Homo sapiens: one gene and its partners. The protein of the gene in region 1 purifies or fractionates together with the protein of each later gene. This does not show direct contact. Each region holds a gene or a part of one and is shown in the gene's direction. Other genes may lie near its edges. The genes, in order: F9, LRP5, MCM8, POGLUT1, HOXD13, SENP1 and HELLS.

Region 1 (5,245 bases):
AGGATATGAACAGACACTTCTCAAAAGAAGACATTTATGCAGCCAACAGACACATGAAAAAATGCTCAGCATCACCGGCCATCAGAGAAATGCAAATCAAAACCACAATGAGATACCATCTCACACAAGTTAGAATGGCGATCATCAAAAACTCAGGAAGCAACAGGTGCTGGAGAGGATGTGGAGAAATAGGAACACTTTGACACTGTTGGTGGGACTGTAAACTAGTTCAACCATTGTGGAAGTCAGTGTGGCGATTCCTCAGGGATCTAGACCTAGAAATACCATCTGACCCAGCCATCCCATTATTGGGTATATACCCAAAGTATTATAAATCATGCTGCTATAAAGACACATGCACACGTATGTTTATTGCGGCACTTTTCACAATAGCAATGACTTGGAACCAACCCAAATGTCCAACAATGATAGACTGGATTAAGAAAATGTGGCACATATACACCATGGAATACTAGGCAGCCATAAAAAGAAAATGAGTTCATGTCCTTTGTAGGGACATGGATGAAGCTAGAAACCATCATTCTCAGCAAACTATCGCAAGGACAAAAAACCAAACACCGCATGTTCTCACTCATAGGTGGGAACTGAACAATGAGAACACTTGGACACAGGAAGGGGAACATCACACACCGGGGCCTGTTGTGGGGTGGGGGGTGAGGGGAGGGATAGCATTAGGGGATATACCTAATGCTAAATGACGAGTTAATGGGTACAGCACACCAACATGGCACATGTATACATATGTAACAAACCTGCTCGTTGTGCACATGTACCCTAAAACTTAAAGTATAATAATAAAAAAAAGATCATTCTAAAATTTATACAAGCCCTTAGAACAGTTAAAAATATCTTACCAAAAGAAGAATAAAGTTGGAGGAATCACTCTACCTAATATAAAGTCTTACTACATAGCTACAGTAATTATGACAGTGTTATATTGGCAGAGGGATAAATACATCAATGGCACAAAGAATAGATAGAGAAACTGGAAGTAGACCCAAAACAATATGGTTAACTGACTTACGAAAAAATTTCAGAAGCCATTCAATCGAGGAAGGATAGGGTGGTATTGTTGTTTTTTGTTTTAACAAATTGTGCTGGATAAATTGGACATACCTATGGAAAAAAAAATGAAGTTTGACTTAAACATCATACTTTACACAAATATTAACTCAAAATGGAGCATGGGCATAAATCTAAAACTTCAAACTGTAAAACATTTAGAAAAAAATAGGAAAAAAATCATCAGGATCTAGTGTTAGTGGAAGAGTTCTAAATGTGATCCATAAAACAAAAACAAATAAACTGGACTACATCAAAACTAAAAAATTCTACTCTGTGAAAGACCTAATTAAGAGGACAAAAGACAAGCTACAGGCTGGAGACAATATATTTAATCCACGTATCTATGAAAGGACTCATATCTAGAATATATAAACAACCTTAAGAATCTGACAGTAAAAAAAAAAAATCAGACTAACTGGACCACTCATACATTGCTGATGGAAATGTAAAGTGGTACAGCCATTTTGGTAAACATCATTGCTCTCTGACAAAGATACGGTGGGTCCCACTGATGAACTGTGCTGCCACAGTAAATGTAGCCACTATGCCTATCTCCATTCTGAAGATGTGTCACTTCCTGTTTCAGACTCAAATCAGCCACAGTGGCAGAAGCCCACGAAATCAGAGGTGAAATTTAATAATGACCACTGCCCATTCTCTTCACTTGTCCCAAGAGGCCATTGGAAATAGTCCAAAGACCCATTGAGGGAGATGGACATTATTTCCCAGAAGTAAATACAGCTCAGCTTGTACTTTGGTACAACTAATCGACCTTACCACTTTCACAATCTGCTAGCAAAGGTTATGCAGCGCGTGAACATGATCATGGCAGAATCACCAGGCCTCATCACCATCTGCCTTTTAGGATATCTACTCAGTGCTGAATGTACAGGTTTGTTTCCTTTTTTAAAATACATTGAGTATGCTTGCCTTTTAGATATAGAAATATCTGATGCTGTCTTCTTCACTAAATTTTGATTACATGATTTGACAGCAATATTGAAGAGTCTAACAGCCAGCACGCAGGTTGGTAAGTACTGGTTCTTTGTTAGCTAGGTTTTCTTCTTCTTCATTTTTAAAACTAAATAGATCGACAATGCTTATGATGCATTTATGTTTAATAAACACTGTTCAGTTCATGATTTGGTCATGTAATTCCTGTTAGAAAACATTCATCTCCTTGGTTTAAAAAAATTAAAAGTGGGAAAACAAAGAAATAGCAGAATATAGTGAAAAAAAATAACCACATTATTTTTGTTTGGACTTACCACTTTGAAATCAAAATGGGAAACAAAAGCACAAACAATGGCCTTATTTACACAAAAAGTCTGATTTTAAGATATATGACATTTCAAGGTTTCAGAAGTATGTAATGAGGTGTGTCTCTAATTTTTTAAATTATATATCTTCAATTTAAAGTTTTAGTTAAAACATAAAGATTAACCTTTCATTAGCAAGCTGTTAGTTATCACCAAAGCTTTTCATGGATTAGGAAAAAATCATTTTGTCTCTATGTCAAACATCTTGGAGTTGATATTTGGGGAAACACAATACTCAGTTGAGTTCCCTAGGGGAGAAAAGCAAGCTTAAGAATTGACATAAAGAGTAGGAAGTTAGCTAATGCAACATATATCACTTTGTTTTTTCACAACTACAGTGACTTTATGTATTTCCCAGAGGAAGGCATACAGGGAAGAAATTATCCCATTTGGACAAACAGCATGTTCTCACAGGAAGCATTTATCACACTTACTTGTCAACTTTCTAGAATCAAATCTAGTAGCTGACAGTACCAGGATCAGGGGTGCCAACCCTAAGCACCCCCAGAAAGCTGACTGGCCCTGTGGTTCCCACTCCAGACATGATGTCAGCTGTGAAATCAGACTGAAATGCTGAAATAACGATAAAAAAAAATACAGAGGTTAAACTAGCAAAGTGAGTAAAGTCAAGGGATAAAGAAAATTTGTTGGAAAACTCACAAAGCAGGACATAAAGCAAGGCCATTAGATATATCTCATTAGTGTGACATCTGGGAGGACAAAGCATCCAAACCCTTTCTTCTATATAAGTGGTGAGATGATGAAGGTTGTAAGAGGGCTTCTGCCCCCTTGAAGACTTCAGATGCTGGGGAAAGGATAGATAAGAATAAGGATGAACCAGGCTTTTGGAGCCTGGGAAATAATGACTAGCGATAAACCTGAAGGGAAGTTAAGTATACGATCCCCAGATAATACTAAGGAGAAAGGCAATGTGATTCTGCAGCCATTGTAGCCAGAGATAATAAGCCCTTGAGGAAGGGGCCAGGGGAATTTTTCTAAGGATAGACAGTATTAATGCAGCACTCTCTTCTGCTATTAAACTCTCATTGGCTTCTAAAAGGAGTTTCGGTGAGTGATTTGCTGAGATGTTGCATTTTCATGGCTGCTGCCTTTAGGTATTATTGCAACAGTTTGGAATTTTGAAATTAAAACAGTTCTGTAAAACCAGTTTAGTTTTGTAAAGTGTATGCATCAAAGATGTCCTTCATTCAGACATTACTGAGTTACAACTATGGTGCCAGGTACTGTGTCAGGGTACTAGGGGTATGGGGATAAACCAGACTCCCTCTTTGATCTAAAGCAGCATGAGGCCAGGTGAGAGGTTTCAATATAATGTGATAAAATGTGCACTAGGTACTAAGGGATCATAGAGAAAGGAACACATTAAATGGGGAAACAATTGATAGAGAGAGAATATTTTCATCTGGGTCTTAAAAGATGAGTAGGCGTTCTCTCTCTTTAAATGTCTGATATAAGGGCATTTTATGCAAAGAGGATCACTCGTGCAAAGACTCAGATTTGCAAGAACGTGAGGTATTTCAGGAGTTTTGTATGGTTCCATATGGACTATGACAAGTGAGACAGGTAAACTAGGCAGAGCTGGTCATCAGATAATGAAGTCATTAACCTAAGGAGATTGGACAATAAAATGCAATATGGAGGTATCGAAGTATAAACATAAGGAGTACCACTGATGGCTGATTTAGGATGCCCAGTCTGGCAACACGCTAATGAAATGATAGTGGGGGAGGGGGCCGTACCAAGACTAGGAGAGAGCAGTCCTGAGACTATTGCAATTATCTGCGGGAGACATAAAGGCTAGAACCTGAACAGTAGCAGTACAAAAAAAGAGGGGAGTTCAAATGATATTAAGGAAGTAGAAGTGGTATGACTTAACCATCTGGGTATGGAAGGGGAAATGGCTAGAGTCTTGGGGACTTTGTGTTTGATGTGATTATGGACCACAGAATAATGTCTAAGAGAACTGGCTCTTTAGTCTGACTGCCAGAGTCTGAATCCTGAATGTTTTAGTATGTTACCTTGGGCAAAGCCCTTAGCCTCTATGAATCTATCTTCCTCATTCATAAAAATAAGATGACAGTGCCTATCTCGTGGGACTTTTGTGAGGATGAAGTGAGATAATGGATGCAAAGTTACTGAGCACAGTGTCCAACACAGCAGAAGCATTACATATACATTAGCTATTACTGGCTACATTATGATATACAGTTAGGGAGTTGGAAAGATAATCTGAAATTCAGGAGACGTATCTGACTATAGGTGAGTATTTGGAACTCATTGTTCTGTAAACAGTAGTTACAGCCACGTGTGTGGGCATCTGGAGAGTGAGCATGGATATTGTGATACCTAGTACAGTGCCTGGCAGTAGTGGTTGTATGCTCAGTAAATTTTGTTGACAGGGTCAGGGCCGGACTAGACTGTGGTAAGCAAGGCCTGTAGGGCATAAATATACTTGTATGCCCCGAGAAGTGAGGACCTCTTAAATATTGTGCCCTACATGCCTTGTTTGGTTCACTCTTGTCCCAGCCCTAGCAAGTATATATAAGGTGAAAAAGGAAAAAGCTGAGGCTGGAGCCTGGGAGAACCCTGGACATTTAAGGGCCATGGAGAGGAACAGGAGTTAATCAATTCAAGTGCTGGATGGATAACAGGAGTTAGAGCAAAGCGGGGAACCAGAATAGAGTGATTATTATAAAAAGAGTTTCCTAAAAAGGGAGAGATCAACAATTAGAAATTATTTAGAGCAGCCAGTAAATACATAAACTCAAAATTATTCTTTAGGTCATTCCTGATTGTGACAATAGTCATTTCATTATATA
Region 2 (3,500 bases), on another chromosome or scaffold:
TGGAGGGACTTGGACAACCCGAGGTCGCTGGCCCTGGATCCCACCAAGGGGTAAGTGTTTGCCTGTCCCGTGCGTCCTTGTGTTCACCTCGTATGAGACAGTGCGGGGGTGCCAACTGGGCAAGGTGGCAGGCTGTCCGTGTGGCCCTCGGTGATTAGAGCTGTACTGACGTCATTAGCCTTGATGGTGGCCAGGACTGGTAGGGCCCTCAGAGGTCATGGAGTTCCTTCGTGGAGCGGGTGCTGAGGCTGTATCAGGCACAGTGCTGGCTGCTTTCACCTGGGCCGTCTCACCGAAGTGTCCATGGAGCCTGCGTAGGGTGGGTATCTGTGTCGATTTTACAGATGCAGAAACAGGCTCAGAGAAACCGAGTGACTTCCCTAAGGTCACATACCCAGTTAGAGCAGAGCTGGGCCAGGAAGTGCTGTCTCAGGCTCCTGACCAGGTCTCCTTGCTTTGCACTCTTGCCAAAACCATGATCCAGAACTGACTTTGAGGTCCCCGGACCTCAGGCTCCTCCGAAATGGCCTCTTGGAGGCTGCTGAGCCACAGCTTAGGACCCACCTCGAGAGGCAAATGTGCTTTGAGCTGCCAGGCGTCCTGGGGGCCCTGCCTTGGGCACGGGGTTCAGACAGGCCCCAGATGTGTGGGGCGTCTTTCTGGACTTGAGTTTTCTTTTCTGTGTGGTGGACACAGTGCTCACCCCTTAAAGCACCTGTGATGTGTGCAGCAGCCCAATCCCTGCCTGTCGCCTGTTCTGCTAGGGAAGGAAGGAAGACTTCAGGATGGCAGGACAACAGAAAGAGGTCCAGGTTTTAGAGCAAGGGCAGGTCAAACTTAGAAAATTCTGGAATGAGGATGTGCATTTCCTCTTCTGGATCTGCTAAAAGAAGAGGGAAGGAGGGGCTGCTGGGGGAGGAGCCCAGAGCCGAGTTTACATCCGGATCCCGCAAGGCCTCCCCTGCCCTGAGGTCTTGTTTTGTGATGTGCTTGTGTCCATCCTGGTTTCTGCCGTGTCCCCAACATCCGGCCAAGCTTAGGTGGATGTTCCAGCACACACTCACCCTGTCTGTGCATCTGTTTTTGTGTCCGTAAGTGGGTATTTACTCGCCTTACGAGTGAGCCACTGTGGGAATTCAGGGAGGTGGCGCAGTGACCACCCCTGGAGGGATATGTGTGTGGCAGGGGTCGAGGGTCTCGCCCTTCCCTGCTTCCTGCGCGTGGCTTTCTCCAGGACGGGGAGGGCTGAGCTGAAGAGGTGGGGACAGTTGCGTCCCCCCGCCACCCACTGTCCTGCGGTGAGAGCAGACTCACTGAGCCTGCCCTTCTCCCTTGTGCCTTCCAGCTACATCTACTGGACCGAGTGGGGCGGCAAGCCGAGGATCGTGCGGGCCTTCATGGACGGGACCAACTGCATGACGCTGGTGGACAAGGTGGGCCGGGCCAACGACCTCACCATTGACTACGCTGACCAGCGCCTCTACTGGACCGACCTGGACACCAACATGATCGAGTCGTCCAACATGCTGGGTGAGGGCCGGGCTGGGGCCTTCTGGTCATGGAGGGCGGGGCAGCCGGGCGTTGGCCACCTCCCAGCCTCGCCGCACATACCCTGTGGCCTGCAAGTTCCCCAACCTGGCAGGAGCTGTGGCCACACCCACGACTGCCCAGCAGCCTCACCCTCTGCTGTGGGAGTTGTCCCCGTCCACCCCTGGGTGCCTTTGCTGCAGTTATGTCGGGAGAGGCTCTGGTGACAGCTGTTTCCTGTGCACCTGCTGGGCACTAGGTCCCAGCTAATCCCTGTGCCAGGACTCTAATTTCACCCTAACACACATGGTGGTTTTCATTGCTGGGGAAGCTGAGGCCTGAGCACATGACTTGCCTTAGGTCACATAGCTGGTGAGTTCAGGATCCCCCAGAGATACCAGGGCCAGCACTCGATCCCCACCCAGCCCTGAACCCCACCATGTGCTGGGATTGTGCTGGGAGTGTCCACACGCCCGGGACCCCAGGGCTGGTGCTCTCATCTCCTTTTTCCAGATCATGAGAATGAGGCTCAGGGAAGTTTGAAAAAAACCTATCCCAAGTCACACAGCAACAGGAGCAGGATTTGAACCCAGAAAAGGGGACCGCACACTCTGTTCTGCTAGAGTAGTTAGCTGTCCTGGGTGATATGGCAGGTGACAGGGGCAACTGTGCTTAACAAAGGAACCCCCATCCCCCCTGCCAAGTTGGGAGACTAGAAGGTCAGGGGCAGAAGCTCTGAAGGGCCAGGTGCAGTGGCTGACACCTCTAATCCCAGCACTTTGTGAGGCCAAGGCGGGCAGATGATTTGAGCCCAGGAGTTCAAGATCAGCCTGGGTAATGTAGTGAGACGCCATCTCTACAAAAAAATTTTTTAAAAATTAGCTGGGCATGGTGGTTCATGCCTGTAGTCCAAGCTACTTGGGAGGCTCAGGTGGGAGGATTGCTTGAGCCCAGGAGGTTGAGGTTGTGGTGAGCTGTGATCATGCCACTGCACTCCAGCCTGGGCAATAGAGTGAGACCGTCTCCAAAAAAAAAAAAAGAAGAAGAAAAAGAAGCTCTGAGGCTCCAAGTCCCCAGGCACCCCTTGGCTTGAGGGCAGACAAGGGAGGAGAGGGTCACCTGGGCAGCCCTGACTTTTGTCCCCTGGCAAAGGGACCTTCAGTGACCTTGGCCCTAGGAGAGCCTCTGAGCACGTCAGCCATGTCGAACCGCTCAGGAAGGGCAGCAAGAATTTGGCTTCTGACCTCTGCCTCTCCTACTCGCCATCTGCACTGGGTGTGGTTGTGCCCATTTTACAGATGAGGAGGCTGGGGCATCGACCAGCTGAATGCCTTGTCCCAGGTACTGCGTAGGCAGAGCTGGCAGTTGAACCCCGTGTCCTGGTTGTCGCTGGGGGTGGGCTGCACCCTGACTTGTGAGGCCAGTAGCAAGGTTTGCACGTGACTTCGTGACCGTCACCCAGCTCTGCAGCACATCCCGTGACCCAGCTCATCCAGGCCGCATGCAAACCTGTTGCCAGGCGAGAAACCAGTCACCGCACAGCTGTGGTTGCCTGAAATGATTAAGCTCATTAATCACCCCGGAGTGAGGACAGACTCAGATGAAAACCAGCAAAAGCCCTGGAAACTCATGTGACCCTGCCAATGAGGGCGGCCATGTGCATTGCAGCCTGGCCGTCACTCCTCGGTACGTGTTTTGGACTTAAACGCTCCGGATGTTTACTGAGTGCTTGATTAATAACATGGAAGGCCTGGTCTCATTGCTGTGGGAGTGAAGGATGCACAGCCAGGCCTGACATGATGAGAACAAGAACCTGGAGTCTCGCTGCCTGGGTGGTAATCCTGGCCCTGCCACTTAGCAACTGTGTGACTGTAGCCAGGTCACTTAATTTTGCTAGATCCTGCCTGCGCTTCAGTGGATCTTGCTGGTTTTCCAAGGTGGCCAAACACTTTAAGGCATTCATGTGGTCGCTA
Region 3 (4,528 bases), on another chromosome or scaffold:
TTGTTGCCCAGGCTGGAGTGCAATGGTGTGATCTTGCCTCATTGCAGCCTCAGCCTCCCAAGTAGCTGGGATTATAGGCATGCACTGCCACACTTGGCTAATTTTTGTATTTTTAGTAGAGATGGGGTTTCACCATGTTGGTCGGGCTGGTCTCAAACTCCTGACCTCAGGGGATCCACCCACTTTGGCCTCCCAAAGTGCTGGGATAACAGGTGTGAGCCACTGCGCCCAGCGTGTTTATATTATTTAATGTTAAATGCCAAGGGAGTGAGTATTAGGTATTTTAAAGGTCATTTTTATTTTCTGTGTCTTGATTGGTCAGTGAATATAGAGAAATAGGAATGCATTTTTTTTTTTTTAATTAGTATCAAGAGGTGATGGTTTTGGGGACTAATGTAAGGGCTTTTAATGTTAGGTTTAGTTGGGACAGAAAGTAGCAGACTGGGATGCTGGAGTTTTTCAGCACAGGGACAGCAAAATCCAATGTAAAACATCCACTATAAAGTAAGTAGTCATAATTAAATATTAGATATTTAAAGGGCTGTTAAAGTTTTCTGTTTTTATTCTGTTTCTGTCCATAAACTTTATATTCTCTATAAAAATAGAGTTCTGTATAAAGAGGATGTTTTGTTTTCCAACTTCAGAGTAAATGTCTGTCCTGTTTAGGTGTTAACTAAGGACCTTGAAAGGCATGCAGCTGAGTTACAAGCCCAGGAAGGATTGTCTAATGATGGAGAAACAATGGTAAATGTGCCACATATTCATGCAAGGTGAGGAATTTGATGTATTAAAGTATTACTTAGAATGGGACATTGAAGGCCATTTAAGAATGAAAACGCTCATTTTATAAAAATGAGGAAATCAGTAAAAAGGACATGAGTTCCTTGCCATCTCATTGATCATCACACTGAAATAAACTCATTGAAAATTATTCAAAGACATCATGACAGATACTTCCTAAATAAGGAAGAAAATGTTGATTTCCTAACCTGCAGATTTTTGTAAACATTGGTTTTGGATGTGAACTTATCAAGACCCTGCTGTGTAAGTTTAATAATCCATGTATGGGTTGAGTATCCCTAATCTGAAAATCTGAAATCTGAAATGCTCCAAAATTCAAAACTTTGAGCCCTGACACGACACTGAAAGGAAATGTTCATTGGAGCACTTCAGATTTTTGAATTAGAGATACTCAACTAGTAATATTGCAAATATTTGGAAGTCCAAAAATTCCAAAATACTTCTGGTCCCAGGCATTTTGGATAAGGGATATACTCAGTCTGTAATACACTAAGTGTTCTTTGTTAAATTATTAGGTTTTTGTTAGATACAAGGGAATAATGAAATTATTTTGTTTTTCTTGAATTCATCTTTAAGATTTTAAATTCATTAGAAGAATTCATTATAAGGTAATCATCAGCATTTTGTTTTTCTTTTCCAGAATTTATAGAAGAAAATTTCCTAGCAGTTCTTTAAAAAGAACTTAGAAACCCAAAGGTTTTTGAATCTGTAGATTTTCCTTTTGGCATTATTTTTTTCCTTAAATTTCTTTTTTCTTTTTTCCTTGAGAACAGCCTGTGAGACAAGAAGAAAAAGGAAGATTTAGTGTTGTTTCTTGTTAAGAATGGTTTGGCTGGGCACGGTGGCTCATGCCTGTAATCCCAGCACTGGGAGTCCGAGGCAGGCGGATCACGAGGTCAAGCGATCGAGACCATCCTGGCCAACATGGTGAAACCCTGTCTCTACTAAAAATACAAAAATTAGCTGGGTGTGGTGGCACACACCTGTAGTCCCAGCTACTCGGGAGACTGAGGCAGGAGAATCACTTGAACCCGGGAGGCAGTGGTTGCAGTGAGCCAAGATGGCACCCCTGCACTCCAGCCTGGCAACAGAGCGAGACTCCATCTCAAGAAAACAAAACACAACAAGAATGGTTTAATTCTTGTGATATTTCTGATATATCGAAGGGATGATTTGATTTGAGAATTCCATAGTTGCTCCTAAAAGGAACTTGTGAAAATATAAAAAACATCAATTTTCTGTTCATTACTTCCTGTTTTGTCTTTAGGGTGTACAACTATGAGCCTTTGACACAGCTCAAGAATGTCAGAGCAAATTACTATGGAAAATACATTGCTCTAAGAGGGACAGTGGTTCGTGTCAGTAATATAAAGCCTCTTTGCACCAAGATGGCTTTTCTTTGTGCTGCATGTGGAGAAATTCAGAGCTTTCCTCTTCCAGATGGAAAATACAGTCTTCCCACAAAGGTAATACGTTCTTTAACTGCTTCTTTATTTATCTTGGTAAAGAAGGCAAATCAGAATACAGAAAACATTTCCCAGTGTTTCTGAACACAGAGCTTATTTTTATTTTTTATTTTCAATTTTCTGCTTTTATATTATGAAATACTTCAGGGTAAGAAAAATACAGAAATAAATAAAACATTCCACTACTCATCACCCCGAATTTACATTTTTCAGCTCCGGACACATTTTTTAATGATATAAAGCATTACTGGCACAATTAGTGTCTGTTTTTTACCTATACCATTCCCAGGGATGATCATTATCCTGAAGTTATTATAATATGCATCCCTTCCATTCATATTTCTGTTGACTTCTAGGTATACACACCAAGTTTTTTTTCCCCTTTATTTCTTCTACTATTTAGAAGTGATGGGTTTTTTAAATCTTTATTAGCCTTTATTAAACTGGATTTTAAAACTATAGAAAAGTGCAGAGAATAATGTAATTAACATTTATCTACTCTATGATTTGGCAAATATTAATATTATTTTAGCTTAATTTGTAACAAAAATATGGTTATATAAAGTTGAAGTCTTTCTGTTCTCAGTTTTATTCCCTTTATTTGCTCCCTAGATGCAACCACTATGCTGAAATTGGCATGTATTCTTCAAGTTTACATTTTTATTCTTGACTACATGTGTAGAGTTAGTTTTTTGTATTGTGTTTACGTAAATGGTATCCTGAATGTAACACGCAGCTGTTTTTTTATTTGGTTATTTTGTAGTTCTACCTATTTTAATACATATCAAATTCTTTCATTTTTACTATTGTGGAGTGTTGCTTTAAATAAATAGCCACAATTTATCCATTTTCCTGGAGGTAGACAATTGTGCTCTTTCCAGTTTTTTATAAGAACAAATGATACTGCAGAGAACATTCTTGTACATGTCTCCTTAGCAGAGGAATACTAAGTTGTAGGCTGTACTTTTTTTTTTTTTTTTTTTTTTTTTTGAGACGGAGTCTCGCTCTGTTGCCCGGGCTGGAGTGCAGTGGCGCGATCTTGGCTCACCGCAACCTCCGCCTCCTGGGTTCAAGCAGTTCTCCTGCCTCAGCCTCTCGAGTAGCTGGGACTACAGGCACGCGCCACCATGCCTGGCTAATTTTTGTATTTTTGGTAGAGACAAGGTTTCACTATGTTGGCCAGGCTGTTCTCAAACTCCTGACCTGGTGATCCGCCTGCCTCAGCCTCCCAGAGTGCTGGGATTGGCCGGCTGTACTTATTTTTAACTGTATTAGATGTTACCAAATTACTTTCCAGAGTATTGTTCCCAACTTAAATCTTTGCTGGTAGTGTTAAGTAGTTACCATTTCTCTGTCTTTTCATTAACACTTGGTATTGTTAGACTTGTACATTTTTGACAGTTTGTTAGGTATAAATAATACTGCATTTATAATGTGAATTTTTCTGATTTCTGTTGTGGTTGAGCATCTTTTCATATCTTTACTGGCCATTCAGTTTCTTTATCGAATTTTCTATTTATATCTAATGTTCATTTTCCTGTTTATTGGTTTATTCTTTAATTTTGTTTTTTAGAGATGGGGTCTCATTCTGTTGCCCAGGCTGGAGTGTAGTGACATGATCATAGCTCATTACAACCTTGAACTCCTGGGCTCAGGTGATCTTCCCATCTCAGCTTCCCACGTAGTTGGGACTACAGGTGCCAGCCACTGTGCCTGGTTCTATTAGTTTATTGATAGGAGTTCTTTATACATTCTAGATACTAATTATTGTTGATTATATACATTAGATATTTTCTCCCAGTCTTTGGTTTGTCTTTTAACTTTGTGGGTTTTTTTGTTGTACAGTTTTACATTTTGACATGATCAAATTGTTGTCTTTTCCTCCCTAATTTGTATATTTTATGCCCTGCTTAAGAAGCCGTTCTTCGGCTGGGCTTGGTGGCTCATGCCTGTAATCTCAGCACTTTGGGAGGCCGAGGCGGGCAGATCACCTGAGGTCAGGAGTTGAAGACCAGCCTGACCAACAGGGAGAGACCCCATCTCTACTAAAAATTCTAAATTAGCCAGACGTGGTGGCACATGCCTGTAATCCAAGCTACTCGGGAGGCTGAGGCCGGAGAATCGCTTGAACCCAAGAGGCAGAGGTTGCAGTGAGCCGAGATCACGCCATTGCACTCCAGCTTGGGCAGTAAGAGCGAAACTCCGCCTCAAAAAATACATAAATAAATAAGAAGCCCTTTTCACTCAAGCATTATAAACAT
Region 4 (4,528 bases), on another chromosome or scaffold:
ACTCCTGGGCTCAAGTGATCCTCCCACCTTGGCCTCCAAAGTGCTGGGATTACAGGCATGAGCCACCACACTAAGCTGGAAAAAAGGTTTTAAACTTTTTTTTCCCTAAGTTATTCTTGGCCTTGGCCTTAATTTTCTAATCCTTTCCCCCCCTCCTCAGGTACTTGCAAATACCCTTTTCACATTCTTCTTTTTGTAGCTCTTTTCCCACCTGCCATGCAGCTGCTTTGTTTTCAAAATCTTTAAAAACATTTTTACTGATTATGAAACCTATATATGCTCATAAAATTTTACAAATATGTATAACTCAGGCAACTTTCCCCCTAACTTATTGGTGTATCTAAGTAATCTTTCCATGTCTTTGTTTCATGTCAGTACATATGAAAGAGTCACTTTATTTATTTGTTTGTTTGTTTATTTTTAAAAGGCAGGATCTCACTATGTTGCCCAGGCTGGACTCAAACTCCTGGGGTCAAGGTGTTATCCAGTTACTCCACCGTGTAGTTATTAATACCATTTTCCCCCAGGTAAACTAGTAAGCAATTTTTAGGCAGATAGAATGTTTTAAAGTCTAATCTTATATGAATACTTTTTTCTTTTGATACCTTCCCATTTTATTCAATTGAATTTATTCATGGTTATAGAAATACAATTTTGTTTTTTAGAACCCTCTGTTTAGAATCTCTAATGATGTTCATTTGTTACCTTGAAAATTTAATAATCTGCTTGTTTATCCATCTGCACTGATGTCTGCCTGCCACTGTTCATTCTATTTTTCTGATATTTTGGGAGTTTGTGCCCACTGATTTATATTTCACTCTGTAGAAGAATTCATTGTTCTTTACAGATCGAAGATTTCATTTGTTACTGTCAGAGAGGGTTTAAAAAAGAGGGCTGGGGTAGCACCAGGCTGTGGTGGCCACCGTTAGCACTTGCCTGGAGAAACAAGTCCTAACCTAGGTCTTTTGAGGGAGGATGGGTAGGTTAGGAGAATGAAAGAGAGAGAACAGTGATACACAGTTTGGGTTTGTGTATATGAAACACAGCTTCCCCAGGAGCCAAGGAAATAAAGAGAAGTAACTTTGAGTATAAATTGATACATGTTTTGTTAGATAGTTTGACAATATGTATCAAAATTGGAAATGTATACTGTGTATCCTTTGACCTAGCTGTTTCATGTCTAGAATGTATCCTAAGGAATTAATCAGATGAATGTGCAAAGATTTGTGTACAAGGATGTTTACTACCATGTTGTTTCTTAGAGCAGAAAGTTGGAAACTACCTAAAAGTCCATCAATAAAGGATGAAGTGAATCATAACATGACTATAAAATGGAATTTTTGCAGTGAGTCTTTGCCAGAGATTATAAAATGGAATATCGTGCATGAATGGAAAGGCAGTGTAGGTTTTAAAAACTCTGGGTTCAAATCCTGGCTCTTATTAGCTGCATGACTCTGTGCAAGTTGCTTAACCTCTAAAGGACCTCATTTGTAAAATAGGGGTGATAAAACCTACCTCTTAAGATTGTGAGAATGATTTTTTATTTACAAAGCACTTAAAACAATGTCTGTAACATAGTGAAGTGCTATATAGATGTTGGCTGTTATTATTATTTATATTTCCTATTAAGATTGTTACCTAACAGTATGTATGGTGTGACCTCTGTTACATAGAGCAAAGTTTCTCAGTACTAGTGTTGCTGACATTTGGGGCTGGATAATTCTTTGTCCTGGGAGCTGTCCTAACCACTGTAGGATTGTTCAGCAGCATTTCTGATCTTTACCCACTAAATGCCAGTAGCAGTCCCCTAGTAGTAACAATCAAAAATGTCTACAGACATGGCCAAATGTCCCCTGGGTGGGAGGGACGGGCAAAATTACCCCCAGTTGAAAGCTACTAATATGAATAAATGATTGCAAGGAAATTCTCGGCTAAAATGTTACATTGTTACCTCTGGACAGGGAGATTCCAGACGACTTCTTACTTTTATCTTTATGCTTTTTCATGAGAACTTTGCATGAGGAGCATGAAACATTTTCCACTAAAAACAAAACAACAAAAATCCAGTGCTATAGTGTCTCTGCTTGGGCAGGAAGAAGTATGGGGAAAACAAGATAGTTCTGGCCTTAGACTGGAGAATCAGGTAAAGGTGATCCATCCAGAAAAGGCCAGAGGATGAGCCACGTTGGCTGAGGGTGGAGGTCTGAGGGCCTGGAAAATACTGAGCAGCGTTCTCAGCTGAGTGAAAATGAGCAGCATGACATTATATGTATCTGAAAAGGACCTGTGCCTAGAAAGTTTATATCCTAAGTTTCTCCGTTACTGTAATCCAGCCCATCAATCCCTCATTAACTTCAGTTCAGCCTTCCCTTCCTTTTTCAGAGAAGATGCTGTGCAGACTTCTGTGCAGGGAGGGTTCCTACGAAGCAAGTTAAGAATGATGCATCTGTGAGCTAGCAGTTTCAGTAAGGAAGGCTGGTCATGGTAATGTGTACTGAGATCTGACTTTCAAGGACTTCATCTTTATAGAGCACTTAGTCTGGCTTTAAGAATACAAAGGTGCTTTTCAAATATCAAACTAAATCTGATGACACTTCCCACCTATGGAAAACATAAAATCAGAGAGTGATTTCCCTTTCATTCCATTTCTGATGCTTTTTTATTTTTTTGCAGTTCTGTACACATAATTAATTTCATCAGTAGCACCCTACTTAAAGTACAGAGGAAATCCACATTTGCCAAATTATAAACAGACCTAATCATGACCTTCAGGGTTTGGGGGCTTTTCTTTCAATGTTGTTAACTTGTTAATGGGGAGTAGATTTGTAGATACAACTGGGTAGCACCTCCAGAGCAATGAAATGGTAGCAAAAGGAAACAAAGTGTCCTTTAGGGCTTTTTCTTTTGAGTGACTTTGATTAGACTTACTTAGAAATATGAAGCTCTGGCCAGGCACAGTGGCTCACGCCTGTAATCCCAGCACTTTGGGAGGCCGAGGCAGGCGGATCACGAAGTCAGGAGATAGAGACCATCCTGGCTAACACGGTGAAACCCTGTCTCTACTAAAAAATACACAAAATTAGCCGGGCGTGGTGGCGGGCGCCTGTGGTCCCAGCTACTCAGGAGGCTGAGGCAGGAGAATGGCATGAACCCAGGAAGGGGAGCTTGCAGTCAGCCAAGATCGCGCCACTGCACTCCAGCCTGGACGACAGTGCGAGACTCCGTCTCAAAAAAAAAAAAGAAATATGAAGCTCTGAACTAATCTTCAGAAATGGTTAAAGCACATTCTTATATAGTTGAAAAAGATATATTGAAACTAATTAAATTCTATATTCTTAGGTCAGCAGCACAGTGGCCATGGAAAAAGAAAAACTCTACAGCATATTTCCGAGGATCAAGGTGAGTTATTTTCTGACATTTTACAAAGATATTCTTCCAAGTAATGTAAAATGTAAGTAACTTTGAGGGTATGACAAGCTCTGTAGTTCAAAGGGAAAGCTAAGATAACAAAGAAAGAAATGTGGAATCACAATTTTAGATTCGAGAATAATTCACATTATTTGCCGAAATCGCCATTGATTGAGTTGATATTCAAAGAAGTAAAGTTCATCCATTTCAGTCATTTAACAGATATTTTACATAGTGTCACAAATGTGTCGGTCATTGATTATGTGATGCCAAACACAACAGATGGGTGTCTTCTTACAGTCCCTAGGAGTAGCTTATGATCATGCCACGGTACTCTGCTGGTTAATGCAGAGCAGGACTCATCACCATATCTCTTGACTGCCTTTTTTATCACACCCTGTGGCTGCCAAATAGTGGTTAAGAGCACAGACTGAGACTGCTGAAAATGAAGAAGGGAGCAGGGAGGAAAGAGAAGAGAAAAATGGCAAAGGTAGTAGGAGGACCCTGTGTTGTTCAGCTCCATAGTCCCAAGGCCAAGAACAGTTCCTAGCATGTCAATATATGATAAATATCTGTGGAGCAGATGAATAGAAAAGACCATGAAGGGAGCAGGGTTTTGTAGTTTTAGCAAGTGAGTCCTTGCCAGAGATTATACTCCCTCTTCACCCTCCTCTTCACTTCGGAGCTAGACTTTAGGAGGTAAATGGATTATCCAGCTACTATGTCCTGTTTCTTACCAACTTCTCTGATTCTTAAATCTTGAAGTCACAAATTAACTTGGGGACCATGTCTGGACTTCAAGAGTTTTAGGACTCCCTTGAAATTATGTGAGGATATGTGCATTTTTCTGGGAAGGAGAGAGGGTTGGTTCATAGTTCTTAACAGATTATCAAGGAATCCATGATGCCTCACATGTCAAGACCCTCTGCTACTTGGAACATCACTAGAAATTCTTCCACATACAGTCGTCAGGTTTTTAAGCCCTTTGGTTTTTGTGCATTTTTTTTAAATTAAATATTATACTGGGCTGTACAGAGCATACATAACAAAGGTCATGTAGCTGTTTTAGTGAGTCGTGACTACCTAGCCTCACAGTTATGAGCACCAGTGATTATAGAAG
Region 5 (5,098 bases), on another chromosome or scaffold:
CAAACCCTCTTTAAAAGTTAGCAATCCTGTCGCCTCGCCACAGTTGGCCTTTTTAAAATGCTGGTTGAACTTTCATTGCTGACTTTTGCCTTCTTTTCCCAAATAGTGAAAAAAATTTTCTCATCAGCAAACTTCTATTCCCTATGATTTCCTGTAAATTCAGGCCCCTCCCATCTCAAATTTGATCATGAACATGTCTAGAACTTCAAAACGATGAAACGAATTCTCTTGCTTTTCCTTTCCAACACCCCTCTCATAACTTTCCCCTTTATTTGAGCCTTTTATGGTTACTGCGTTTTGCATGTCAACACTCCTAACACCAGCAGCCTACCCTGAAATGCCAGGCCAGGCCAAGGAGGGCCTTCCTGGCTCTCTTCCTCATCTTACTCAGGGCATCTTTGGTCGGGGAACAGTGGTGCTGGGTGACAAGCTTTCACCAATCACAGGCTTAGGGGAGTGATTTTCTTGGAGATGGGCTGGCTTGGGGAGTGCATGCCACAGAACCAAATGGGCTCTGAAGGATCCCATATCCACCCCCAGAACCCTGGGCTCATTGGATCTAATATTGTTCCTAAGGCAGAGCCCCAAAGTCACAGCAGGACTCTCATTGGTGCCCCATTAGTTGCTGAGATTGAGGGATGGTGGGCTGGAGCTCTGAGGCTGAGGAGCAACAGAAAGGGATGATGAGGGACAGGGCTGTAATCCCTAACACCCTGGCAGCTTGGTTCCAGAGCTGGACCTAGCCCCACCAGCACTGCCCTGAGCCCACCTAACCCCTTGAAGTCAGACCGTTTCTCTGGGCTGCTCCTATCACAAAATCCGAATTTGCTTGGAACAAGCGCCCTCTTAATTTGCCCCTCTCAGTTCTCTGCAGTTGACAGCTTGGAAAAGGAAGCGAAACAAAGGTCCCTGGGAAAGTGAAGTTTTCAATTAATTTGGTGTGAGAAACGGGCGGGAGTGGGTGGTGACTGCAAAATGCGAGGCCGGTCGGCTGCTGGAGAGACACAGAAGTTTCACGGTGGGAGGCTGAGTGGCTTTCTCCCCCGGCGCCGTTCTCAGGGTCTTTCTGCGGGTCGAAGAAGGACCCGCGGGAGCTGAGAGGCCCAGGTCGGAAGCACTCCCGGCTGGCCCAAGAGTAGAGGCGAAGAGCGTTGAGTAGGCATCCATGGACTTTTCTTTCTGGGACAGATTGTCAGGCTCACTGCGCCGATGCCTGTCTTTCATCTGTTTAAGTCTCTGCCGCCAGCCCCAAGGGCGCTTCATGGGCATTTTCCGAACGGACAGCGTGTGTGTATAGGAAGGGTCTGCTCCAATGCCTCTTACCTGTGTGAAATGCCTTTGCCGGGTACCAGTGCACAAGGTAGGGCAAATTAGCTCACTCGGATTTGGGGTCTAGAAGTCGACTAACTGAGGGATTCAGCAACAGGATAAAAAAATGGGCCTGTTTTCACATCATTCTGATCATCTCTGTCCTTCGTCTTCATTTTGCTGTGCAACTCGGGGAGCCGAGGAGAGGTGGCAAAAACAGCGGTTGCCGAGACAAGGCGCAGGCCTTGGCGCCCGCCTCAGTCGCAGACAGGGCCTGGGATGGGCCGTCGCGCAATCAACTCGTGGGGGTGGCTGCAGCGCGTACGCCTGGGTCGGGGGGGAGGGCGGGAATGGGAGGTGGACCCTGCAAGGGGCAGGAGAGGGGTGGGGGCCGGAGTGGGTGGGTCCAGCCAGGCCTGGGCCGGGAGCCAGGCTCCCCCGCGTTCCTACCCCCACGTGGCCGCGCGCAGCCAATGGCACGCCCCCGGCGGGGGCCCTCGGGGCGGGAGGCGGCCCCCCGACCGGCCCAGGCCCCCTCCCAACCTGAACTTCGTTTTTATAAACGTCCCGCGATGAGCTAACCTGTTGGAGGGCAGGCGGGCCGGAGGCGGGAGGCTCACAGAGGGAGAGAGGGCTAGAGGAAGAGGGCGGGAGCGAGCGAACCAGAGAGAAAGGAGAGGAGGGAGGAGGCGCGCCGCGCCATGGTGTCCTGCGCGGGGCCAGGGCCAGGGCCGGGGCCGGGCCAGGCCGGGCCATGAGCCGCGCCGGGAGCTGGGACATGGACGGGCTGCGGGCAGACGGCGGGGGCGCCGGTGGCGCCCCGGCCTCTTCCTCCTCCTCATCGGTGGCGGCGGCGGCGGCGTCAGGCCAGTGCCGCGGCTTTCTCTCCGCGCCTGTGTTCGCCGGGACGCATTCGGGGCGGGCGGCGGCGGCGGCAGCGGCGGCTGCGGCGGCGGCGGCGGCAGCCTCCGGCTTTGCGTACCCCGGGACCTCTGAGCGCACGGGCTCTTCCTCGTCGTCGTCCTCTTCTGCCGTTGTAGCGGCGCGCCCGGAGGCTCCCCCAGCCAAAGAGTGCCCAGCACCCACGCCTGCAGCGGCCGCTGCAGCGCCCCCGAGCGCTCCAGCGCTGGGCTACGGCTACCACTTCGGCAACGGCTACTACAGCTGCCGTATGTCGCACGGCGTGGGCTTACAGCAGAATGCGCTCAAGTCATCGCCGCACGCCTCGCTGGGAGGCTTTCCCGTGGAGAAGTACATGGACGTGTCAGGCCTGGCGAGCAGCAGCGTACCGGCCAACGAGGTGCCAGCGCGAGCCAAGGAGGTATCCTTCTACCAGGGCTATACGAGCCCTTACCAGCACGTGCCCGGCTATATCGACATGGTGTCCACTTTCGGCTCCGGGGAGCCTCGGCACGAGGCCTACATCTCCATGGAGGGGTACCAGTCCTGGACGCTGGCTAACGGGTGGAACAGCCAGGTGTACTGCACCAAGGACCAGCCACAGGGGTCCCACTTTTGGAAATCTTCCTTTCCAGGTAGGGGCGATGGAGAAAAGGGACCGACACGAGGGAGGGGGAGAGAGAAGGAGAAAAGAAAGGACTAAGAGTATGCGCCCCTACTTGGGAGTGGGAGTTGTGCCTGTGCTCCACACGTGACCAGGGTTAACCCAGTGGAAATTTGTCCAGTTCGTGTGAAATCTGTAAATTCCTCCTCTGATTTCAACTGCCTCCGTCACTGCCCTTTCTTTCCTGTGTGCAGCGCAGACACGTTTTTCTCCTAAAGTTGAGAGTCTCTGCGTGCCCTTTCCTTGGGCCTCTCCCTTTTCTCCTAAAGAGAACTTTTTCCTAAGAAACCTGACAGAGTTGGGTCCCCCCATTTTCAAAGACATCACTGCCCCAAGATGACTACTAAAGCTTGTTAGATCAAGCTCACGAACTCCTAACATAGGAACGCGGGAAATCAAAATTTGAGCAAAAGACCTGAGTTGGTATGTGTCTATGTATGTAAGTTTGTTTTTATACAACCGACATTTGCAGAAACTGTCCTCATGAACGTGCCCAATAACCACACCATAAAATTGCAAGCTTGTTAAGATGCCGGTTTGAGAAACTATGATAATCAATCAAATTAACCATTGTTGTTAAGTGCAAATAATCCTTCTTTAATAACAGGTAAGTGTTATGTCTATGTACATAATAAAGACCAAACAGCATGGCATTTTTTAAAAATTTCCTGCACCCCTGCAAACGCACACACACACACACACACACACACACACACAATCCTCAGCTAGGTGCTCCGAATATCCCAGCCTAATTTTTCTTGTGCTTTTGTTTGTATCAGGGGATGTGGCTCTAAATCAGCCGGACATGTGCGTCTACCGAAGAGGGAGGAAGAAGAGAGTGCCTTACACCAAACTGCAGCTTAAAGAACTGGAGAACGAGTATGCCATTAACAAATTCATTAACAAGGACAAGCGGCGGCGTATCTCGGCTGCTACGAACCTATCTGAGAGACAAGTGACCATTTGGTTTCAGAACCGAAGAGTGAAGGACAAGAAAATTGTCTCCAAGCTCAAAGATACTGTCTCCTGATGTGGTCCAGGTTGGCCACAGACAGCTTAGAAGCCATTCGGTTGTCTCCAAAAGGCCTTTGGAAAGACTTGAATATGTATTTAATTCCCCCCACCCCCTGCCAATGGTGGCAAATTTTGTGAATTGTTTTTCTCTCTTCCCCTTATCTGGCTCTAAAACCTTCTGCTGCCCAACCTGACTTTGTAGTTCTGATTTTTACTTGTTTATTATTGGTTTTGTTCTTGCCTAGGGTTTTTAAAATATCTGTTTTTAATGTTTTGTTTCTCCCTCCAGGCCAGTATAAAGGGACTTGAAGTATTTTTTAATAATCCGCCCCCCAATGAACTTCAGAAGTGCCATTCTGATTTAAGGGTTTTTTTAAAAAATTACTTTATTTGTTCATTCCCAGCACTGATTATCTTCATAATCCATTAGGACAGAATGGTTTTCAGTCGTTCATATCCTGTAATTAGGTAATTGAATCATTAGCTCTCAGCAGTTGCCCTGAGGCAAGTGGAAAGGCAGGCAGTGCTCTGGGGTCACCGAGAAAGTCTAAAAACAGGAGGCTGAAGGTACTGTGATGGCTTTAAAAATGGCCACCTTATTAAATAGGGATTGTATCAATATTGAAATGAAGACAATCTTTCCAACTTTGGGTGTTTCACTTGCTGTTTTAATTGTTTGTTTTTAACACTTTGTAGGTTTGTGTTTTCATAATCTTTAATTTGAAACTCATGTGTCCTCATGGATCGTGGATGCCTTCATTTCTTGAGCTCTCAATGCAGACATTTAAATGGCTGCAATCAGTAGAGTGACCCGCGGATGGCATAAATGCACCTCCTTTTCTTGGCCTTGGATCTATGGGTCTGGGATTGTGGTCATCTCCTCAATCCTCAAAAAGAGGCTGAATCAATGTGGCCGTGGGTGGGAACTTACATACAGAACCCAATGAAGAACTTGACTGTCTAAACAAGGGGGCCTCGCATGGAGCTGTAAAGCATCTAACAAATATGAAAAATGTGAAGTTCCAAGGTCCAAGAAGAAAAATAATGATGTTTCTGAAAGTGATGATAAATAATTACTTTTAAAGTGCTGCATATTTATACAATTGAGAGATTATTTTTGTAAATGCAATGTCTGTGAGCTGGGATACATGGGCAGTGCTTCAGACATTTAAAAATCACTTTTTACTCCTAGGGAGATGCCAATAAACAGAA
Region 6 (3,370 bases), on another chromosome or scaffold:
GACTGTCTCACTTAGCAGACCTTGACCATGTGGGGGACCAGCTCTTTGTTGTCTACAGCCAGAGACCTTGGAAACAGCTGCTCCCAGCCCTCTGCTGTTGTAACACCCTTGATCCTGGACCAGGCCCTGGCGAGATGCATTCACAAGCACATCTGCCTTTCCTTTTGTATCTCAGATACTATTTTTGCAAAGAAACTTTGGTGCTGTGAAAGGGGTGAGGGACATCCCTAAGCTGAAGAGAGAGACTGCTTTTCACTTCTTCAGTTCTGCCATCTTGTTTTCAAAGGGCTCCAGCCTCACTCAGTCCCTAATTATGGGACTGAGAAAAGCTTGGAAAGAATCTTGGTTTCATATAAATTCTTGTTGTTAGGCCTTACTAAGAAGTAGGAAAGGGCATGGGCAAAAGGTAGGGATAAAAACCACCAGCATATACATGGACATACACACACACCCACACACACAAACACACACACACACACAATTTTCACGATGTATGGTCAGGAATGTGACTGTAAACTGGACTTTGGGGCCCAGGCATAAGTCCCTTCCTCCAGGACCTTTCCTATTTATATGTCCCTATACAAAATCCATCTGCTTTTATACGTAGCTGTTTTATCATCTGTAGCTTCATCCTATCCGGAGGCACAGCACATGAGCCCTGGACAGGTCCCAAAGTTCCAAGCAGTCCTTTCCGTGAAAGCAGGGGTTTGCATGTGCTACCAACACATGATACGGGGAAGACCCACCCAGGGAGCGGTTTCAGTGGCGCAACAAAGCACCACTTTTACTGTTGCCTACTTCTGACCAAGAAGAAAAAGGACCTTAGTATTTAGCATAAAATTCCAGCGCTGGATGAATGCAGATCTAGTTTGGTCTGTGGCTAGTTTAAATATGTTTCTAACCACAGAGAATTTCATATATATATACATATATATATACACATACATATATATATATATATATGTATGTATAAAATTTCACAGGGATATGCTTTTTTTTTTAAAGACTGAATGTGTTCACCATTTAGCCTGTAGATTTATTTCCATTTTCCAAATTCCAGCACACAGAGATCCCAGCCCCTATGAGTAGGGTGTTTGTGGACTACCTAATGGAATATTTTTGAGGCCTGGATGAACTTTGCCATATGGGTAGAGGTTACAGAGGGAGGTGATATTTTCAGCTAAAAAAAAAAACGGGTGGAGTTTGGACTGATCAACTTGAGATTTAAAAACTGCTATTCCTTTTGTTCTTTCTAGCATCTCTCCCCACCCTCTGAGAGCTCCTCAGGCTTAGATAGTGAAGTGATCAAATGCCAGTGTCATTTTGTACTTAAGTTCCAAAGTAGGAACATTTTATACTTTTTTCTGTATTGTAATAGGTAGTTTTGTATGAAATCTTTTCTCCTCTCCCGTTGTACCGCATTCTTTCCAGCATTGTGCTTTTTCCCTGGGCTTATTTGAAAATTTTACTGTTTTATACAAGCTCGTTTAGTACATTTTTCTATGTTTTACCACAAGTTACAATTTGAAAAGAAAACTATTTTTTTTAAATATTCCATTGTTAACTGAATGTTACTGTTTCCACTCCAGCAACTACATGTCCTCCCTTCAACTGCCTGCCTTTTGGGGAAAGACCACCTTTTGTGTGTTTGTTTTTTCTCTCTCTTTCTTTCCCTTTCTCTTTCTATCTCTCTTTATTTTTCTTTCTTTTTCTTTGTTTTTGAGTTTTCTATAGGAAATAAATAGCTTTCTATATATGAGTTGCTGGGGACCTTCACATTCTCTTTTAGAAAGCTGTGGCATGCAGTCTCATTGCAGGACTCCTGGAATATTGTCTGGTTCTTGGTATTTACTGTATGTAAGCAACAACTTGAAAGGTGGCAATATGGTGTCGATTTGGACTATGAATCAAAAGACCTTTTTCAGGTTCTTTCACTATTGTCTGGGGGACTCAGAACAAGATTGTTCTCTGTATTTATTGTTTGTCCATTTAGGTAACATCTGTCTTACCTTCCTCACAGACTTTGTACAGACCAAAGCAACAAATATTTATTGCCATGTATAGCAGAAAATGAAACATGCAACAAAAGCACTTTGAAAAATATATAAGGAATTGTTGAGCCTGTCTGAATTTGGGCCCCCTTTCTGACTAATGCAGTTTTGCACAAGGTAGAAGTTAGTGACCCTGAGACCATCTTACCACCCTGGACCTGGTCCAAATACAGACTTACACAGTGGACCATTCTTTCCTGAGCTAGCCAACAAGAGCAGGAGTAGTATCTGGAAACTTTCCCCTTTGTTTAGGGGTAGGCTTTGATGACCAGGAAAAAAAAAAAGGTATTTCTGCATTTTATGGCCCAAAGGCATGTTATTAATATCTTATGTAATTTACTTTAAACTAAATAAGACTTTTTTCTCCTGTGTTCCCCTTTCTCCTGTGTCCACTGCTCATATTCACCTGCCTTCCCTAAAAAAGGAATATTTGAGGGATGATAAGCACTAGATGCCAGCTATAGAGACCTCAACAGAAACCATAATCCCAAGAATCACTCCGAGACCCTGAACAGAGAATATCAGACAGACCTTTCTTACCCATTTGAGAAACACATGGTCTGAGGCACAGAGGCTAGTTACATCCCATTTGTCACCTGGGACCCACCATTGCTCCCAGGAGTCCTATTTAGGGTTGAATATAAGAGTACTTTTCCCTCATCCAGTCTGGGGAATTTGTGTCAATTGACTCCTCTGTATGAGATGCTTCATACTTCTATGTGGAATTAATTTCTGTATTCTTTAGCCACTGTAATCATGCTAGCATCTTCTATCCACTGCCCCCAGCAATGTTAGCACCAAGATCCTGAGGTAGAAACAGAGATAACCTGGAAAAGCACTTCCACCAACCCCATCTCATAGCCTGTCCATTACTGCCTGGTTTTACATGGCCCTTAAGTGGCTCTAGTGGGTAAAGGGGGAAGAGTTCACTTGAGAGCCCCAATGTTTTTAATGTTTCAGTTTCTGGTCCTGTGCCATCCCTCCAGCTTTTAAATATGTCTTGCTGGAGTAAGAGAGAGGACTGACACCTGGGGTTTCTTTTTGTTTGGTCCACCTGGATGGACTAGCATGAGGTGGAATATGATGCTTTCACCCTGGGAGTTCACATACCCAAGAGAGTCAGAAAAAGAGGTGTTAGGCTATTAGGCCCTATTGTTAAACAGGCCACGTGCTGAACTACTGGGAAGGGTACCTTATTTTCCCGCCCAGGAGCAATGCATCTACAGCTTGGAATTCCATGGGAAGGGACAAGGCTCATCCCAGCATCCTTTATTATAAGTCTAGGGCCTTGTTTTACCTGTACTGACTCCTAACATCTG
Region 7 (4,528 bases), on another chromosome or scaffold:
GCTGGGATTAGAGGCATAAGCCACCACGCCCAGCCAATCGCTTTTTAATTCTGGGATATTTTAACAAAAAGCTCAGCAAGACTTTTTTTTTTTCTTAAGGTGGAGTCTCGCACTGTCACCTGGGCTGGAGTGCAGTGGCATGATCTCGGCTCACTACAACCTTTGCCTCTTGGGTTCAAGTGAGTCTCCTGTCTCAGCCTCCCAAGTAGCTGGGATTACAAGTGCCCACCACCACGCCCAGCTAATTTTTTGTATTTTTAGTAGAGACAGGGTTTCACCATGTTGGCCAGGCTGGTCTCAAACTCCTGACCTTGTGATTTGCCTGACTTGGCCTCCCAAAGTGCTGGGATTACAGGCTTGAGCCACCATGCCCGGCCAAGACTATTTTTTAGAACCATAACCACAATACAGTTACCACACTTTTGAAAGTCGATGGGAATTCCTTAATATTTAAATTTCTCAATAGGCTAATTTTTATTTTTAGGGATGGGGGCTTGCTGTATTGACGAGACTGGAGTGCAGTGGCTATTCCTGAGTATTGTCATAGTGACTACACCTCAAACACCTGGGCTCACATGATCCTCCTGCCTCAGTGTCCCGAGTAGTAGTGCAGGGACTATAGGCACTTACCGCTGTGATCTGCTTAGCTCATACATTTTAAAAAAATAGTTGGTTCAAATCAGGATCCGAAAAAGTTACATAAATTGTGTTTGATTAATGCGTATCTTGGGTCTCTTTTAGATCTAGAGTGTCTCTCATCTTTTTTAAGAAACATTATTTGTTGAAGAAAATGAGTAATTCTGTATAATTCCCCACATTCTAGACTTTACTGATTGTATCCCCATGATTTCTCTGCCTCTTGTGTTTCCTGTTAACTATAGTAACTATAAGTTAAATACGGAAGTTTGTGATTAAGGTGTTTTTTTATTTTTTTTTTTATTTTTATTTTTTTTTGGGAGACAAGATCTTTCTCTGTTGCCCAGGGTGGAGTGCAGTGGTGCCATCTCGGCTCATTGAACCTCTGATTGCTGGGCTCAAGCAATCCTCCCACCTCATCCTCCTGAGTAGCTGGGACTACAGGCGTGTACCACCAAGCCCAGCCAACATTTATATTTTTTGTAGAGATGGGATCTCACCATGTTGCCCATGCTTGATTTTTAATAAGAATACTTCATTGGTGGTATTTATAGATTTTGATTTATTTCCAAATTGTTCTTTCAAAAGTTTCATTTTATCTAGTCATTTTACAGGACAGCTTTTATCAGTTCCTGGTATAAAATCCTTTTAGCCTCAGCCTTATAATATGAATATCTATACATACATAATACTTCATACACACACGATATACATATATTCCCATGTATATATATGTGTGTGTGTCAGCCACTTACATGTCCTGTTACTCTTCTATGAATCTTAAATTTGATATTGCTGTTTTGAATCTACTTCATCCCCTATGCCTTCTATATTCTCTCTGCTTGAAATCTACCCTCACTATCTTGAATGATGAAGCCTGGTGACAACTTTTTAGATAATTTTATGTAAGATAATTATTTGCTAAGTCATCCAGTGACATACTCGGGTATTGTTTGTCTCCCTACCAGCAGCATCTAGTAGGTACTTCAAAATCAGAGCACTTTATTCTGTATTTTTAATTTTTTCTGTCTTTGCCTCTTACCCAGGAATGCAAACTCAGATGTCTATCCACAGAGGCCTAAAGTGGGCTGTAACATGGTTTGGCAAACTTTTTCTGTAAATAGCCAGATAGTAAATATTTTTAGCTTTTGAGTAGTTTTGTGGGCAACTACTCAACCCTGTACTCTGCTGTTGTTGCTTGAAAGCAGCCATAGACAAACCGTAAACAAGTGAGGCTGACTTTGTTCCAATTTATCCCATTTCTTTGCTTTTAAAAAAATACCTGTGTATTCGCTTAGCTGGAGTTGGTCTACAGGCTGTAGTTTGCTGACCCCAGGACTAGAGGTTTGTTGCCATGTGTGAATTTGTACTTAATCTACTCAGATTAAAAGAAAGAAAAGCTGGAAAATCACTGTATTTGATGAAATATCCCATTGTATAAGTGTTCCCAAATTAGCCTAGAATGTTATGAAATATTATGAGCCAGTAATGTCTATAGGCTTATTTCTGCCTGAAGGCTACTAGTTTTATCTTGAGAATCTCATCCTCATTTCCTGGCAAAATGAGCACAGAATAAATGCTTGTTGAATAAATAAATAAATGAACTTCATACATTATTAATTTGTTTTTGTTTTCTCAAACTACTAGGAAATTTTGTCTGTGGCTAAAAAAAATAAAAAGGAGAATGAGGTAAGAAATTTATAATGTAAGATTAAGTTTAGAAGTCATATTTACTCCTCAGTTACTAGTCCTTTTTCTTTAATCAGCAGTATACGTTCTTCTCACTATTATCCTGTTTCTTTGCTTTAAAAAAAAATACCTATGTATTCACTTCTTCCATATCCAACATTCTTCTTTTTTATGTATCAACTTTAGTTAGTTGTTTTATTGCATGATTCTTGATGTATAAATGTTAATTTATGGGTCTAGCAATGTTGCTTTTAACTTGTGAATCTGGCAGTGATACAAGTGCTCGTAACCATGTGGATATAAACCGTGAATCATCTTATGGAAGCTGTGAGGGATGCCTTAATCTTGCTTCAGACCTTAAAGATTTTTTAAGTTTCTTAAAAGTTCTGTTTGAGAAGGCTTGATTTCCGAGCCACCTCTTCACTTAGCCCATTTCATGTAGAGAGGTTCCTTGTTATCTGACTTTTTATTGTTCAAGTACTTAAAATTACAAGGTTGCCTAGGGAAGCAAAATAATCATGACATGAAAATATTCATGAATGGATATGAACTTCAGGTAGTTAATTTACATATTAAAGATTTTTAGGCCTTTGGGAAATTAATGTTATGTTTATAAAATGAGAGATAATCTATTTGGTCATATAATTTTGTCCAAAATTTATATTGTAAAAGTGTCTTGGTTTTTATTCTTTGTTAAGTTATTAAGGACTGGTTTATGGGTGCAGTTTAGTTGGATTTTTAAAGATTTAGTTAGATAAACATTTAGTTGGATTTTTAAGATAAAGTCTAGATGTAATCTTCTGTAATTTACTATGGGATTTTGGCTTCATTTTATAACTTACAGTCAGTAAGAAATAGTTGTTAAGTATGGTATTTTAATGAATTTCGACACTTGCATACACTTGTGTAACCACCATCCAAATCAAGGTATAGAACATTTCCATTGTAAAGGGATCTCTTCTATGTCTTTCCACCCCCAAACCCAGAGGAGGCCACTTTTTACACCTTTTATAGGATGGCTTATTATTTCCTTTCCACTCAACATGTCTGTGATACTCATTTATGTTGTTGAGCATATTAGTAACCGGTTTCTTCTTATTGACTAGTATTCTGTTGAATGAATGTTACAATTTTCTCATCCATCCCCTTATTGATGGGCATTTGGGTTGTTTGCAGTTTGTGACTTTTATGAGTAAGGTTGCTATGATAATTTGCACACAAGTCCATGTGTAGACATGTTTTCATACTTTCTGCCTGTGTACCTGGGAATGGTATTGTTGTGTTACGTGGCAAATGTGTGTTCATAAGAAAGTACAGATTTTCCCCCCCAAAGTAAACACATCATTTTATTCTCTCGCCAGCAATGTTTGAAAACTCCAGCTTACATTATTGTCAGCATTTGATAGTCTTTTTAATTTCAGCCATTTTATTAGATGAGAAATGGTAACTTGTGTGGTTTTTAACTTGCATTTTCCTAATTACTACTGAAGTAGAGTATATTTTTATGTTCTTTGATAACTATGTTTTCTTTCTTTTTTTTTCTTTTTTGAGATGGAGTGTCACTCTGTCGCCCAGGCTGGAGTGCAATGGCACGATCTCGGCTCACTGTAAACTCTGCCTCCCAGGTTCAAGCGATTCTCCTGCCTCAGCCTCCCAAGTAGCTGGGACAACAGGCTCATGCCACCATGTTCAGCTAATTTTTGTATTTTTAGTAGAGACAGTGTGTCACCATTTTGGCCAGGATGGTTTTGATCACTTGACCTCATGATCTGCCTGCCTTGGCCTCCCAAAATGCTGGGATTACAGGCGTGAGCCACCATGCCCGGCCTGTATGTTTTCTTTTGTAAAGTATCTGTTAATATCTTTTGCCCGTCTTATTTATGCGTACTGTATTTTCTGTGTAACAGTTTAATAAATTATTGAGTATCACAATATTAGAAGTTTGGAAGAGAGATACAATTCTAATGATCTTTTCAAAAGTATGTGCCTGATTTTAATTTGTAAGGGTTATTCTCAGATTTTTATATTTTATTTTATTTTATTTTATTTTATTTTTTGAGATGGAGTCTTCTGTCACCCAGGCTGGAGTGCAGTGGCTGTGTTCATGGCTCACTGCAGCCTTGACTTCCTGGGTTTAAGTGATCCTCAGCCTCCCGAGTAGCTGGGATACAGGCAGTTGCGTGCAACCACACCCAGCTAATTT

What was found.
Region 2: the proteins of F9 (region 1) and LRP5 purify together in Homo sapiens (affinity purification with mass spectrometry; 2 studies listed by BioGRID and IntAct, with this or other methods). This does not show direct contact.
Region 3: the proteins of F9 (region 1) and MCM8 purify together in Homo sapiens (affinity purification with mass spectrometry; 2 studies listed by BioGRID and IntAct, with this or other methods). This does not show direct contact.
Region 4: the proteins of F9 (region 1) and POGLUT1 purify together in Homo sapiens (affinity purification with mass spectrometry; 2 studies listed by BioGRID and IntAct, with this or other methods). This does not show direct contact.
Region 5: the proteins of F9 (region 1) and HOXD13 purify together in Homo sapiens (affinity purification with mass spectrometry; 2 studies listed by BioGRID and IntAct, with this or other methods). This does not show direct contact.
Region 6: the proteins of F9 (region 1) and SENP1 purify together in Homo sapiens (affinity purification with mass spectrometry; 2 studies listed by BioGRID and IntAct, with this or other methods). This does not show direct contact.
Region 7: the proteins of F9 (region 1) and HELLS purify together in Homo sapiens (affinity purification with mass spectrometry; 2 studies listed by BioGRID and IntAct, with this or other methods). This does not show direct contact.

Annotation. Positions count from the first base shown.
Region 1 is NC_000023.11:139,528,875-139,534,119, forward strand, and holds the start of F9 (coagulation factor IX isoform 1 preproprotein), read left to right. Parts: upstream 1-1,864; 5' UTR 1,865-1,890; coding exon 1,891-1,978; intron 1,979-5,245. UniProt on the Homo sapiens protein: Factor IX is a vitamin K-dependent plasma protein that participates in the intrinsic pathway of blood coagulation by converting factor X to its active form in the presence of Ca(2+) ions, phospholipids, and factor VIIIa.
Region 2 is NC_000011.10:68,410,091-68,413,590, forward strand, and holds part of LRP5 (low-density lipoprotein receptor-related protein 5 isoform 1 precursor), read left to right. Parts: coding exon 1-50; intron 51-1,345; coding exon 1,346-1,530; intron 1,531-2,989; exon of another isoform or gene 2,990-3,170; coding exon of another isoform or gene 3,171-3,213; intron 3,214-3,500. UniProt on the Homo sapiens protein: Acts as a coreceptor with members of the frizzled family of seven-transmembrane spanning receptors to transduce signal by Wnt proteins.
Region 3 is NC_000020.11:5,956,460-5,960,987, forward strand, and holds part of MCM8 (DNA helicase MCM8), read left to right. Parts: intron 1-666; coding exon 667-770; intron 771-2,068; coding exon 2,069-2,267; intron 2,268-4,528. UniProt on the Homo sapiens protein: Component of the MCM8-MCM9 complex, a complex involved in the repair of double-stranded DNA breaks (DBSs) and DNA interstrand cross-links (ICLs) by homologous recombination (HR).
Region 4 is NC_000003.12:119,481,989-119,486,516, forward strand, and holds part of POGLUT1 (protein O-glucosyltransferase 1 precursor), read left to right. Parts: intron 1-3,339; coding exon 3,340-3,399; intron 3,400-4,528. UniProt on the Homo sapiens protein: Dual specificity glycosyltransferase that catalyzes the transfer of glucose and xylose from UDP-glucose and UDP-xylose, respectively, to a serine residue found in the consensus sequence of C-X-S-X-P-C.
Region 5 is NC_000002.12:176,090,829-176,095,926, forward strand, and holds the start of HOXD13 (homeobox protein Hox-D13), read left to right. Parts: upstream 1-1,892; 5' UTR 1,893-2,062; coding exon 2,063-2,843; intron 2,844-3,651; coding exon 3,652-3,902; 3' UTR 3,903-5,098. UniProt on the Homo sapiens protein: Sequence-specific transcription factor that binds gene promoters and activates their transcription. Part of a developmental regulatory system that provides cells with specific positional identities on the anterior-posterior axis.
Region 6 is NC_000012.12:48,041,951-48,045,320, reverse strand, and holds the end of SENP1 (sentrin-specific protease 1), read left to right. Parts: 3' UTR 1-2,424; downstream 2,425-3,370. UniProt on the Homo sapiens protein: Protease that catalyzes two essential functions in the SUMO pathway.
Region 7 is NC_000010.11:94,569,105-94,573,632, forward strand, and holds part of HELLS (lymphoid-specific helicase), read left to right. Parts: exon of another isoform or gene 1-2,283; coding exon 2,284-2,325; exon of another isoform or gene 2,326-4,528. UniProt on the Homo sapiens protein: Plays an essential role in normal development and survival. Involved in regulation of the expansion or survival of lymphoid cells. Required for de novo or maintenance DNA methylation. May control silencing of the imprinted CDKN1C gene through DNA methylation.